Homo sapiens: one gene and its partners. The protein of the gene in region 4 purifies or fractionates together with the protein of the main gene of each other region. This does not show direct contact. Each region holds a gene or a part of one and is shown on either strand. Other genes may lie near its edges.

Region 1 (3,500 bases), on a different chromosome or scaffold from region 4:
GAGCAGACAAACTGCAGTCAACCACAAATCTGTGGGCAAGAAATAAACGCTCATGGTCTCAACCACTGTGTTTTGAGGTGATTTGTTATTTGGCATACATCAATTAGTACTCCATCCTATCTAAAATTGTAACACCTTATCCTGACTTTGATACTTCCTATTCCTCCTCCCTTTTTTCACTCCCTAATACTTACCGCTATCATTCATGTAATTTTACTTATATGCCTTATTGTCTATATCCTCCATTATAAGAAAACAACTTGGGCAGAAATTTTTGTCTATTTGATTCATTGCTGTATTCCCAGAACCTAGAAATGGACCTAGCATCAAGTGTTCATTAAATATACAGGAGATGAATGAATGAACAATTAGCCCTGTGTTCACACCCCGGTATAATTCCCATATTACAAAACTTAGTATTCTGCAAACTCTGCAGTTCTGTCAAAGCTATAATTCAAGTCTTCATTCAGTCTAATTCATCTACTATTACTTAAACCCTGGTTACTAGAGATTATATATTCAGGATAGAAGACAATATGTTCTTTCTAGATTTTTCCAGAAGAAATAAAGGAGCTAGACAGCCCTAAATTTGAGTTACAAGATGCCGAGCAAGTGTTATTTACTTCCATCAGGTGTATTTCTGAAACTATAAATTACGGAAAATATCTATGCAAAATCTAAAGTACAGACAAGTAATAAAACTTTACAGGTGGGTGTGGTGGCTCATGTCTGTAATCCCAGCACTTTGGAAGGCTGAGGCAGGATTGCTTGAGGCCAGCAGATTGAGTCCAGCCTAGGCAACATAGCAAGACCCTGTCTCTAAAAAAAATTTAAAAATTAGGCAGGTGTGGTGGTGCATGCCTGTAGTCCCAGCTACTCAGAGGCTAAAGTGGGAGGATTACTTGAGCCCAGGAGCTAGAGGCTGCAATAAGCTATTAATCATGCCACTGCACTCCAGTCTGGGCAACCAAGTGAGATGCTGTCTCCCCTACAAAACAACAACAACAACAACAACAAAATCACAAAGAGAAATTTTATGCTAATCTTTGAAGAATGAAGGAAGTGGATACTTAATATTTTACCCTAAAAAATACCATGTGTTTCCACAGTATTCTATTTCTCTTAACAGTACTTATTCTGGTTTGTCTATTTCACCAACAAAATCTAATCTCTTTGAAAAAGAACTGGCATTCAATAAACATTTGATGAATAAATGACTATTAGCATTTAAAAATGTATTTACCTGACTGGTTAAAACTATTATACATTTTTTAAGTGAAATGGAGATGTTTACTTTAGCTACTGTCTTTTTAAAAGTTTTTGGTCTATTAGCCTTTACTTTCTGCTGTGAAGAAAAAAACACAAAACAAAACCAAAATATAAAATACATGGCATAAAATAAATGATTTTTATTTAAAAATATACTAAGGAATGCAGCCATAAAAAAGAACGAGATCATGTCCTTTTCAGGAACATGCGTGGATCTGAAGGCCATTATCCTTAGCAAATTAATGCAAGAAAATCAAATACCGCATATTCTTACTCATAAATGGGAGCAAAACGGAAAGAACACATAGACACATACAGGGGAACAACACACATTGGGCACTATCGGAGGGCAGAGGGTGGGAGGAGGAAGAGGATTAGGAAAAATAACTAACAGGTACTAGGCTTAAAACCTGGGTGATGAAGTCATCTGTACAACAAACTCCCATGACACAAGTTTACCTATGTAACAAACCTGCACATGTACCCCAAACTTGAAAGTTATATATATATGGGGGGGGAGCAGGGAGGGAGGGGGGAGGGGAGGGGGGAGAGAGAGAGAGAGAGATGTCCTAAGACTTCAACTTTTAAAAACCTAGGTGTACTAAGACTTCAACTTTTAAAAACCTAGAAAAACAACAAAGTAAATAAAAGATGAATGTATACGGATGAAATTAATAAAGACAACAGTGGTGATTCTGAAATCAAAGAAAAATGAGAATTAATAAAATGAAAGTTGGTTCTTGAAAAGCTGAATAAAATGGACAAACCCTTGGAAAGCCCAACTAAGAAAAAAATATAGATAACATTAGAATGAAAATGGAAATTTAAAACTACTAAGAGATTAAGAGAATTACTGGAATGCTGAATGCAACTTTTTATCGGTAAATTTTTAATATAGAGAAGCAATTATTATGCTAAAAAGCTCTATATCTACAATTAAGGAAAGGCAGAATAAATGATCAGATCCGTAACTATACTAGAAATTCAAGCTCAGGCATGTTAGCTCATGCCTATAATCCCAGGACTTTAGGAAGCTGAGGCGAGCGGATCACTCGAGACCAGGAGTTCGAGACCAGCGTGCGCAACATGGTGAAACCCCATCTCTACAAAAAATAGAAAAATTATCCTGGCATAGCGGGGCATGCCTGTGTTCCCAGGGAGGATGAGGTGGGAAGATAAGCCCGGGGAGGTCAAGGCTGCAATGAGCCGTGATCATGCCACTGCACTCCAGCCTGGGCAACAGAGTGAAACCATATTAAAAAAAAAAAAAAAAAAAGAAAGAAATTCAAATATTTGCTAAATTTCTACCATCTACCACTAAATAAGCTATCAAGCTTAATGATTTTACAAGACAGCTGTGTACAGCCTACAAGGATCAGATAATTTCTATGATTCTTATTATCCCATAGCATAAAAAAAGATGAAACACTTCCAATTTCTTTTTCAATGGTAACATATAATTCAAATTTGATGTGAGAATAAAGAAAAATATTACTGAAAATGCTCACTTATGAACAGGTATATAATAAAATCCTGAATAAAATACCAGCAAATCAAAACCTGAAGCAAAGAAAAACATAGGATTGTTACTACTGTCTACGTGACCTTGGGCAAATTACTTCCCCTTCCTATCTTAGTTTTTTCATCTCTAGAATGGAAATCATAATAGTTCCTACAGCATGGGGTTGTTATAAAGATTAGATAGGTAAGTAGAAAGTCCTTAGGACAGTGCTTGGCACATGGCAAATGCTCAATAAGTGTAAACTATTATTATCCCAAGAACAAAAAGGCAACATAATCCACTGTGTTATAATTTTAAAGTGAAAAATAAAATATATAAATGTGAAAACTGGATAATTTTTGGCAGACATTTTTTAGAATGAAACAGATATAAAAGCCAATCTCTTAAACATGATGAATATCAAAAGCCAATAGCACAAATTATACTGTGTTAAAACACTGTTCATTCTCATTAAATTATGTAAAAAAGCTGTTCAAAGTTAACATGATTTTCCATATTTTGGAGCTTACACTAATGCAATAATGTAAGACAACAAATACTGGAAGGGGTGAGGTAATTATTTGCAGATGATATATAGGCAGAAAGTCTAAGTAAACCAATCTCTATTAGAATAAACGTAATGATAAATAAACATAATAAGAATGGAACAAGACAGTATGACAAACTATATAAAATCTCACTGAACATAAAATATAACCTGAATACTTTT
Region 2 (4,168 bases), on a different chromosome or scaffold from region 4:
CACTACTGTTTTTATTATTATTTCTATTTTTATTATTTATTATTACTATTTCAAAGTAATAATAAATTACTGTTTTTATTATTACTATTTCAAAGAAGGGCAAATCTTTTTTTTTTTTTTTTTTTTTTGAGACGGAGTCTCGCTCTGTCGCCCAGGCCGGACTGCGGACTGCAGTGGCGCAATCTCGGCTCACTGCAAGCTCCGCTTCCCGGGTTCACGCCACTCTCCTGCCTCAGCCTCCCGAGTAGCTGGGACTACAGGCACCCGCCACCGCGCCCGGCTAATTTTTTGTATTTCTAGTAGAGACGGGGTTTCACCTTGTTAGCCGGGATGGTCTCGATCTCCTGACCTCATGATCCACCCGCCTCGGCCTCCCAAAGTGCGGGGATTACAGGCGTGAGCCACCGCGCCCGGCCGGGCAAATCTTAATGTAGCAAAAGCATCTGTTATGGGCTGAACTGCATCCCTCCAAATTCCTTTATTTAAGTCCTAACCCCCAGACCTCAGAATGTGACTGTTTTTGGAGATAGGATCTCTAAAAGGATAATTAAAATGAGTCGTCAGGGTGGCCCCTAATCAAATATAATTGGCATGTCCTTCTAAGAGGAGGAAATTTCAACACAAACAGGCATACAGAAAGGACAGAGGGAGAAGGCAGACATCTGCAAGCAAAAGAAGTACGCCTCAGAAGAAACCAACTCTGCCAATACCTTGATCTTGGACTTCAAGTCTTCAGAACTGAGAGAAAATAAATTTCTGTTGGCCCAGCCAATCAATCTGTGGTACTTTGCTACAGCAGCAAATTAAAACAACATCCAAACAGCAAATAACCAATATGGCAAAACTCCAGTACAACCAAATAAAAATAAAATTCACTGAAGTTTGTTTTAAAGTGCTAAAACTTGAAAAAACGTTTCCGTTAAATACAAAAGCTATCTTAATGTTAAACTGCAGCACTATTACATATAATTTAGGTGTGCACATAATTTATCTAAAGTACATGTTCAATAATTCACATACTCAATACCTACCATGTGCACATTAAGCTAAGTCCAGAATAAAAACCAAAATTGCATAACCACTCATTCCATACATATATTTGAGTACTTATTGTGTGCCACAATACATCAAAGTAATGATGAAGATATAGATACAGAAGGGCTCTATAATAAAGTCCACAACCATTTCTAGAATGTGCACGTTGTTCCTTTTGCCAAGAACTCTTTCATGGTTAACTTTCTTGTTCTTGGTCTTCACTCAAATGTCATTTGCTTCAGAGTTCTCCTTTCCAGCTAAGTTAGGTCAATCATTATCTGTACATACCCTATTCTTTTGCTTCACAGTCCTTCATGTTTTATAATTACGTATTTTTTTAACATGCTTCTTGTTCTTGGGGAAAGTGGGGCAGTGGCTGGATAAAGATTATGTCTGTTTTGCTCACCAATGAATTCCCAGAGTCTAGCACACAGTAGGCACTCACAAATACTGCTGAGTGGAATTTTTATATGACTGATGCTGTACACAGGTACACATGTATCTTTTATCACATGTAATTTTCACAGCCACGTTATGTGGTAAACAGCAATATCCTTTTTTTAAAGCAAATGTGGAAAGGGTTTAGAAAGATCCCAGAGTTTAGACAGCAGCTCAGATACTCAAGTCTAAGTTACCCTAGTGCCAAACCTACTTTTAACCCTTGCCTCCCTATACCATACAGCTCAAAATCTAAAAAACCTCAAGAAGAAACTCATCCTTTAAATCTGTTCTTTACACATGTGACTATTAAATGCCTATGTATTTCGGAGTTTATAAAAAATCAAATGAAAATGGAGATGAAATGCTCTGTAACATACAGAACACCATACAGGCCAGGCACTGTGGCTCACGCCTGTAATCCCAACACACTGGGAGGCCGAGCGGGGAGGACCACTTGAGGCCAGGAGTTTGAGACCAGCCTGGGCAACATGGCAAGACCCTGTCTCTACAAAAAAAGTAATAAAAAATCAAAACACGCTCATTAATTCTTTATATCTTGCCTCCCATTTCAAAATTAATTGGGCTTTAAAACATACCATGCAACTGCTACTAATGTTGCAATTAATGTCGATTACCTAATTAAATACTTAGATGGGCCCTGGGCAAACATCTCAAAGACACGAAGGACTTCAGAGGCACCCGTCAATTCCCCAGACACTGCCCAGGGGCAGAGAGTGCGTGGGATGGGGATGGGTCTGCAAAGGGCTGCGGCAGGGCCTGCTTCGAAGGCCAGGCGTCAGCACAGAGGGAGGGAGGCTGGAGGTCAGTCGGTCAGGCCCAGTCCGTAGAGCCCTGGGGTCTGTCAGTTTGGGGAATCTCAGGTAAGCGAGCAGAGACCCCCACTCTGCTCCCCACCCATCTCGTTCCGTGCGGGAAGAACGGCCAGGCCAGGCAGGGGTCAGGAGAAAGGAAGACAGAGGAGGGCAGTAAACGACGTCGGCTGAAGCCCAAGGAGTCTCTCCAGTTACCCTCCTCAGCCCCTAACAGGGCGAAGATGAGCGCGACCCGAAAGAAAACGGAGAGACCAGGGTCTCCACTGAAGGGACTGCGCCCCCGCTCCTAGGACCGTTAACACCCCCGTCTCGTCCAGTGGGCCCTCGCCTCCGCCTCACCTGAGGACTCCGGAGAGGCTGCACTACGGCCTAGCCGCCGTCCTGGGCCGCGCCCCCTCGGCGGCTGGCCCGGAGGGGGCCCAAGCTGAGTAAACCTCCTCCCCGACCCGCCGGGGCCCTGCTACCGCTTCCGGGAGACGTGGAAGGGAAGCGAGGACCCCACAACAGAGTGGCTTTCGAGCTGCCTGCACGGCAGGGAGACGCGAACAGCCACCTGCAGGCGACTCAGGCGGTGGCGCTGGCGGCTACGGGGTCCTCGCGCATGGCCACGCCCCTTTTCCGCCCGCGGCGAGAACAGGCGCGGCGCATGGCCTGCGTGCGTGTGACGTGGCTCGCCGCCGGTGGACGGCCCGCACGCCGTGAAAGGCCACACCCACAAAGGGCGGGGCCTTACTGCGGGCCACGTGGGTGACCAAAGGCGGTGCCCAGCCTGGAAGGAACGCGAGGCCTGAGTTGGGCGGGGCTTGAGACCCGGGTGGACCGGCTAGACCTCGTGTTTCTCCCTTTCCTCACCATCTCCCCTAAGTTTTACAGACGAGAATGCCAGAGGTCCACGGCAGAAGGTGGAAATAAGAAAACATGATCCGGATTGCATGGCGCTTACTTTCTAGTGGCAGAGACAGATATTACGTAACAGTGAATGGACAAGACAATTTCAGGGCGTTACCAGAGTTGTAACGACAAGAAAACGGGGAAAAGTGACTGGAGGCACGGGAGGTACTTTAAATCAGGTGGTCAGGGAAGGTCTCTCTGAGAAGATGATATTTGAGCTGAGACCCAAAGGATGGAAAAGGCAGTATTGTGGTTATGTTATGCATACAGTTCATTGACTATCTGAAATAAGTCTAAAATCCACATTCACTAATTCAAATACTCAGCACCCACTATGTGTACAGGATTGGGCTAACTTGGCCCTAATGACAAGCCTACAACACAGTTCCAAGTCTCAAATCTTTGAATTGAGGAAAGTAAGGTTCAAACAGTTTAAATAACTTGTCTAAGATCATCTGTCCTAATAAGGAGTCCACATTACTCCAAAGCCTATTCCTCGTAGACTCAAAGCTTTATTGTCTCCAAATTAAATATTGGAAGTAATTACAGCTCCTGCTTTTATTGCTCTCAGGTGAGGTTTAGCCCAGTACGGTGAAGAGAAAAATTTTCAGCAGCACCAGGAGGTGGTAATCATAATAATGGCATCTAACATTTATCAAACCTTTTATTAAGTGTAGAATACTGTGTTAAGCATTGCATGTGCCTCACTTCATTTTAATCTCACATGCATAAGGAAGGTACTATTATTCTCTGGTAGGTGGTATTGTTGTTCCTAACTATTAAGTTGCTTTTCCAGTTAAGGATTACACATCATCGCCCGTTGCCATGCGACTGCAGTGCATCCTGTAGGAGGAGCATTCTTTCCAGCCTCACTGATGTCAGGCTTGATTGTATGATCTTCTTTTGGCAGGGGGTCTTTCTGAGCAGTAGTATTAACAGTTATTACGTATTTCAACCAGAGAAATTTT
Region 3 (3,500 bases), on a different chromosome or scaffold from region 4:
TGAGAGAAGCTGGAGCTGTAGGTTCTTCCTTTCCCCTTACCCTGGCTGGAACAGCCGAGCTCTCCTTTTCCCGCAAGATCTCCCGGTAGCTGAAGGAGGAGATGCTACTGCTGTCCCCTGTCTGGGTCCGGCTTGGTGAGTTCATCTCTGAGAGAACCAGCTCCTCAAGGCCTGGGTGGTGGAGGGAAGAGAAACTTGAGCCCCAATACCCCTGAGTCCCAGGGCAGCAACCAGCAGGAAGAGGCAGAAATAGATTTAACAGAGATGGAAAGAGAGACACCTGGGCATGGGGAAAGGCAGAAGCAGACAGGAGGACAGGGAGAGACAGAGACAGAAAAAAGAGCTGAGGCTGGGCGCACTGGCTCACACCTGTAATCCCAGCACTTTGGGAGGCTGAGGTGGGCTGATCACTTGATGTCAGGAGTTCGAGAACAGCCTGGCCAACATGAAGAAACCCCGTCTCTACTAAAAATACAAAAATTAGCCAGGTGTGGTTGTGTGTGCCTGTAATTCCAGCGATTCAGGAGGCTGAGGCAGGAGAATCGCTTGAACCCAAGGAGGCGGAGGTTACAGTGAGCCGAAATCGCACCATTGCACTCCAGCCTGGGTGACAGAGTGAGACTCTTGTCTCAAAAAAAAAAAAAAAAAAAACAGAAAGAAAAGAAAGAGCTGCCTTTCTGGAGAAACACATACAAAATGAGAGGGAGAAAATGGAAGAGGTTGGAGAAAGAGAACGACATGGGTACACATGGGTCTCAAGTGGCAGACACACTTGGACACAGGGTTCAGAGAAAGGAAGACAGCTAGAGAGGGCACAGGGCACATCCACTTGCAGAAAGAAAATGCCAGAGATGGAAAGCCAGAGCAGATGATAGAAACTGAGACCCTGGTGAAAGAAGTGAGCCAGAGCAGAGACAGAGAGAAAAAAAGATGCCGGGCGCGGTGGCTCACGCCTGTAATCCCAGCACTTTGGGAGGCCGAGGCGGGCAGATCACGAGGTCAGGAGATCGAGACCATCCTGGCTAAAACGGTGAAACCCCGTCTCTACTAAAAATACAAAAAATTAGGTGGGCGTGGTGGCGGGTGCCTGTAGTCCCAGCTACTTGGGAGGCTGAGGCAGGAGAATGGTGTGAACCCGGGAGGCGGAGGTTGCAGTGAGCCGAGATCGCGCCACTGCACTCCAGCCTGGGCGACAGAGCGAGACTCCGTCTAACAAAAAAAAAAAAAAAAAAAAAAAAGAAATGCAAGCAGGCTCTCGTACCCACGCACCTAAATCTCAGTTTAATCTAATGGACAAGGTGAATGTATTGAATGTATGGTATACGATTGTAACGTTTCCCAAGATTATTATTATTATTATTTTTTAGACAGAGTTTCAGTCTTGTCGCCCAGGCTGGAGTACAATGGCGCAATCTCGGCTCACTGCAACCCCTGCCTCCTGGGTTCAGGCAATTCTCCTGACTCAGCCTCCCGAAGTAGCTGGGATTACAGGCGCCCGCCACCACACCCAGCTAATTTTTTGTATTTTCAGTTGAGACGGGGTTTCACCGTGTTGGCCAGGCTGGTCTTGAACCCCTGACCTCAGGTGATCCACCCACCTTGGCCTCCCAAAGTGCTGGGATTACACCTTTCCCAAGATTCTTACATTCATCTGTGATAAAACAGAAACAAAACTCCTTTTTAAAGAAAGGTTACTTCAGGAGACCGAGTGCCTCAGAGAGAAATTGATTTGGTGAGAGATACACATCTGTTTTGCCACATCACTTAAAGCCCTCGAGGATCTCTGGCAAGGGTGGGGTGACTGAGTGGGGATCCGTAGGTATCCCGAGTGGGGGAATAAGGGACCAAGTTTTCTCTGAGTCTGTAATCTAAGAGATGCACCAGAGCCATCACTGCATTTTACTTACTTAAATGTATTTATAGGCCATCCCCGTCTTAAAAAAGGCTGAAGCAACTAAAGTTGTGTGTGTGTGTGTGTGTGTGTGTGTGTGTGTGTGTGTGTCTTCTGCTTGAAGTGGCAGAAATAACAGATTGGATTAGCTGTATAATGAAAACACCACAGCGTTGCTGACTATGTATAAGTCTGTCTCCGTAGCTCAACTGGGGGCTTCTAGAGGGCAGAGACTCAGGGAGTTTTATATCAGGGACCCTGTACTTGAGCAGGGAGATTTATAGAATGAGAGATTGTATACAATAGATTTAGAAATGCCAAGTGAGGTGTGGGAGTGTGTAATGTAGTACATACAGTGAGGAGACAGACAGAGATATAAACAGAAGAGACGAAGAGGACACAGAGTGGCGGGAAGAGATAAAGGGACAGAGAAAAGAAAGGGCGGGGGCCGGGCCCAGTGGCTCATGCCTATAATCCCAACACTTTGGGAGGCTGAGGCGGGCGGATCACCTGAGGTCGGGAGTTCGGGACCAGCCTGACCAACATGGAGAAACCCCGTCTCTACTAAAAATACAAAATTAGCTGGGCGTGGTGGTGCATGCCTGTAATCCCAGCTACTCAGGAGGCTGAGGCAGGAGAATTGCTTGAATCCAGGAGGCAGAGGTTGCGGTGAGCCGAGATCACACCATTGCACTCCAGCCTGGGCAACAAGAGCGAAACTCTGTCTCAAAAAAAAAAAAAGAGAGAGAAAAGGAGAAAACTAGAGAAAGAAAGCAAGGAGATAAAGGCAAACATAGAGGAAAGAGAGAGAACAAACTGAGACAGAGGCAGAGACAGAAACAGAGAAGAGACAGGGCAAAAACGAGAGAAAGATAGAAATAAAGAGAGAATGCAGAGAAAGAATCAGAGGAGAGACAGAGAAAAGGTAAAAGATGGAGTTCCAGAGCGACAGAAGCAGGAAAGCACAGCTGAGGAAGATGCAGGACTAACCTGCAGCCTGCAGGCCCAGGCCCTACCTCCCCCATGCCTCAGCCTCCTCTCCCTGTCCTAGTCCCTCACCTGAGCGGCTCTTGCTGTTAGTGAGGATGTCCTGCAGTCGCTCCTGCAGCTTATCTGCCCGTTTCCGCTCCAAATGCAGCTGCCGCTTGAGGTCCTTGAGCTGTGGGGGACAGGGGTAACATGAGGACTGAGGCCCAGTGGGCCCATAGGAGGGAGGCTACAGGTAGGAGGGAGCCGTGCTTGGGCACCGCTCTGTCTTACCGCAGCACTGCCCTTCTTCTCCAGGATCCTCTGCCCATCCACTGTGTCCTTCACCTCCTGTGGGAGAAAGCAGGCATGGCTGGTAGATGCCGGAAGGGCTGCCTGAAGCATGCTCCCTCCCTGCCCCTCCTGTACGCTGAGGATCAGGGGTGTGTCTGGGGCTGTGCAGTGACCACTGACCTGCTTCAGGCTGCTAATGGTCTTCAGGTGGCAGTCCCGCTCCTCCTGGGCCTGCTCGAGCTGATCCCGTACATCCTGTAGCTCCTCCTCCTTGCCCTGCAAAGCAGAAAGCAGCTTAGGCATTGGCTTGGGAAGCCTCTGTCCTCCCAGGAGGGCCCGTCACTGTCTG
Region 4 (3,500 bases):
ATTGTGGTAATGTTTGCGCAACGTTGAATATACTAAAAGACACAGAACTGTACATTTTAAATGAATGAATTGTATAGGGACGTGAATTATGCCTCAATAAAACTCTTTCTAAAAATCCCACTGTGGGCCAGGTGTGGTGGCTCACACCTGTAATCCCAGCACTTTGGGAGGCCGAGGCGGGTGAATAACTTGAGGTCAGGCGTTTGAGACCAGCCAGGCCAACATGGTGAAACCCCGTCTCTACTAAAAATACAAAAATTAGCCAGGTGTGGTGGCACATGCCTGTAATCCCAGCTTTTCAGGAGGCTGAGGCAGGAGAATTGCTTGAACCTGGGAGGCAAAGGTTCCAGTGAGCCGAGATCTCGCCACTGAAATCCAGGCTGGACGACAGAGCGAGACTCTGTCGCAAAAAAAAAAAAGTCCCACTGCAGCCAGGCGCAGTGGCTCACACCTATAATGCCAGCACTTTGAGGCTGAGGCAGGCAAATTGCTTGAGCCCAGGAGTTGGAGATGAGCCTGGGCAACATGGTGAAACTCTGTCTCTACAAAAAAATAGAAAAATTAGCTGGGCATAGTGGCACGTGCCTGCAGTCCCAGCTACTGTGGAGGCTGACGTGGAAGGATCGCTTGAACCCCGGAGGTCAAGGTTGCAGGGAGCTGAGATTGTGCCACTGCGCTCCAGTCTGGGCGACAGAGTGACAGCCTGTCTCAAAAAAAATAAGTAAAACAAAAAAACAAAAAACCCACCGTGCTGGTGGCTATGTAGGAAACCCAGATGCCCTCACATGATACTGGGGGTGTTCTACTGGAACAAGCTTTATGGAGGGCAACTTGGCTTTTTTAAAAAAAATCTGAATGACAAATGCATAAACCATGGAGCCCCAATTCCAATTCTAGAAATTCAGCGGATGGATACACTCATACACATGCAAAGTGATCTGAGTTCAAGGTGATTCCCTGCAGTGCCATCTGTGCTAGCAAAAGCCTGGAGACCACCTAAATGCCCATCAGAAGGGGACAAGGTAAATGAACCATGGCTTATGCACTCCATAGACCATTTTTTTTTTTTTTGAGTTGGAGTCTCACTCTGTTGCCCAGGCTGGAGTGCAGTAGCACAATCTCGGCTCATTGCAACCTCCGCCTCCTGGGTTCAAGCGATTCTTCTGCCTCAGCCTCACGAGTAGCTGGGATTACAGGCATGTGCCACCACGCCAGGCTAATTTTTGTATTTTTAGTAGAGATGGGGTTTCACCATATTGGCCAGGCTGGTCTCGAACTCCTGACTTCAAGTGATCCACCTGCCTCGGCCTCCCAAAGTGCTGGGATTACAGGCGTGAGCCACCGCACCCAAGTGACTCTAAGGACAATTCTGCAGTGTAGAACAAGAGGAAGATGCATCCTACATCCAGGTAGAACATAATATCCAAAAAAGAAAAGAAAAAAAACAGAACATAATATCCAAGAGAAAACCAAGGCCAGGTGTGGTAGCGTGCACCTGTAGTCCCAGCTACTCAGGAGGCTGAGGTGGGAGGATCACTTGAGCCCAGGAGGTTGACCCTGCAGTGAGCCATGATCATGCCACTGCACTCCAGCCTGGGCGACAGTGAGATCTATCTCTTAAAGTTTTTTTTTTTTTTTTTTTAAGCGAGTACAGAACAGCATAGAATAAACTAGGTATGCATAAAAGAGGGAGAAAGTACATACATGACTAGCTGTGTCAACACAGAATATCTCTGGGGAACACATGGGAAATTGGTAACCCTGGTGGCCCTCAGGAAGTGAACAGCGTAGGAGGGGGAACAAGAGCCGCAGAGTCTTCTCTGAATATCCTCCCACACCATGTGAATTTTGAACGAGGAGAATGTTAACTTTTTAAAAGCAAATAAACATGACAACTAAATGCAACCTGTGTTCCTGAGCCAAGAAAAAAAAAGTTTGTTTTTTTTTGTGAATTTTTTGCTAGAAAAAACACTGGTGGGGCCAGGAACAGTGGCTCATGCCTGTAATCCCAGCACTCTGGAAGGCCGAGGCAGGCAGATCACCTGAGGTCAGGAGTTCGAGACCAGCCTGGCCAACATGGTGAAACCCCGTCTCTACTAAAAATACAAAAATAAGCTGGGCGTGGTGGTGGGCACCTGTAATTCCAGCTACTCGGGAGTCTGAGGCAGGAGAATCACTTGAACCAGGGAGGCAGTGGTTGCAGTGAGCCGAGATCACACCACTGCACTCCAGCCTGAGCGGCAGAGCAAGACTCTGCCAAAAAGGAAAAAAAAAAAGAAAGAGCAAGAGAGAGAAAAAGGAAGGAAGGAAGGAAGGAAGGGAAGGAGGAAGGGAGGGAGGGAGGGAAAAACATTGGTGGAACAACTGACAAAATACAAATAAGGTCTGTGGATTCTAATAGTGTTGTCTCAGTGGTAGTTTCCTGAAATCGATCATTGAACTGTGGTTGTGTAAGAGAATGGGCTTGACATTAGGTAGTAAATTTAGGAATATTTAGGGGTTAAGGGGAATCATGGGTAAGAAAATAATGGGCCAGGCATGAAGGCTCACACCTGTAATCCTAGCACTTTGGGAGGTCCAGGGAAGGCAGATCACTTTAGCTCAGGAATTTGAGACCAGACTGGGGCAATATAGTGAGACCCCATGTCTACAAAGAATACAAAAATTAGCCTGGCGCATGTCTGTAATCCCAGCTACTTGGGGGGCTGAGGCAGGAGAATCGCTTGAGTCTGGGAGGTAGAGGCTGCAGTGAGCCAAGATCGCACCATTACACTCCACTCCAGCCTGGGCGACAGAGCGAGACTGTCTCAAAAATTGAAAACTAAAAAAAATAAAAACTCTGGGAGTTGAGAAATGTTAGCTCCACTTCACAGAGAAGAAACTGAGGCTCAAATCCCCGTGCTTTACTTGACTTTTTCCTTCCTTCCAGCCACATTCCCAGCACTTCCTAGCTGGGAGATATTAGATACTTGGCACTGAGGAACCAAGTGGGCAGGTCAGACCCCAGCTTTGTCTGCAGGGCACTTATGTTGTAGGAACTGCATAAGCCATCAGCAGGCCATAGAAACAGGCCGGTTCGGGTTCAAATCCCAGCTCTGCCACTTCCTGGGTGCATGACGTAGGCAAGTCATTTCTCTTCTCAAGCGAGGTGTCCTCTCTGTAAAGTGGGTAACATCTCACTGCCCTTCCTGGGTTGTTGCAAGGATTAAATGAGTGACCTCCTGCAATGCATGTAGAAGCATGCATGGCCCCCAGGTGAGATCCAGGAGCTAAGCAATGATCCACATTGGTGGGTACAGGGTGCACCTGGGCTTAGAGGCCTTCTGTGCACAGGGGCCAACAAGTCAGGTGACAACTCCATAGGACTGGACATGGCGTCCCACCAAATATTTTCATATATGCAATTTACTAATAAGGGTAATTGCTATCCTAAGTCACGTTGCCTGGCAACACAGCTGACACCTACCTTCATCAGGTTTCCAGGGGAAGCAGCCAGAAAG

Evidence for each region.
Region 1: the proteins of PHLDB3 (region 4) and DZIP3 purify together in Homo sapiens (affinity purification with mass spectrometry, with the first as the bait; one large-scale study listed by BioGRID). This does not show direct contact.
Region 2: the proteins of PHLDB3 (region 4) and GOLGA5 purify together in Homo sapiens (affinity purification with mass spectrometry, with the first as the bait; one large-scale study listed by BioGRID). This does not show direct contact.
Region 3: the proteins of PHLDB3 (region 4) and GRIPAP1 purify together in Homo sapiens (affinity purification with mass spectrometry, with the first as the bait; one large-scale study listed by BioGRID). This does not show direct contact.

Annotation. Positions count from the first base shown.
Region 1 is NC_000003.12:108,592,722-108,596,221, reverse strand, and holds part of DZIP3 (E3 ubiquitin-protein ligase DZIP3), read right to left. Parts: intron 1-3,500. UniProt on the Homo sapiens protein: E3 Ubiquitin ligase proteins mediate ubiquitination and subsequent proteasomal degradation of target proteins.
Region 2 is NC_000014.9:92,792,937-92,797,104, reverse strand, and holds the start of GOLGA5 (golgin subfamily A member 5), read right to left. Parts: upstream 2,801-4,168; 5' UTR 2,649-2,800; exon of another isoform or gene 2,112-2,648; intron 1-2,111. UniProt on the Homo sapiens protein: Involved in maintaining Golgi structure. Stimulates the formation of Golgi stacks and ribbons. Involved in intra-Golgi retrograde transport.
Region 3 is NC_000023.11:48,978,265-48,981,764, forward strand, and holds part of GRIPAP1 (GRIP1-associated protein 1), read right to left. Parts: intron 3,428-3,500; coding exon 3,332-3,427; intron 3,209-3,331; coding exon 3,152-3,208; intron 3,051-3,151; coding exon 2,951-3,050; intron 172-2,950; coding exon 41-171; intron 1-40. UniProt on the Homo sapiens protein: Regulates the endosomal recycling back to the neuronal plasma membrane, possibly by connecting early and late recycling endosomal domains and promoting segregation of recycling endosomes from early endosomal membranes.
Region 4 is NC_000019.10:43,487,747-43,491,246, forward strand, and holds part of PHLDB3 (pleckstrin homology-like domain family B member 3), read right to left. Parts: intron 1-3,500.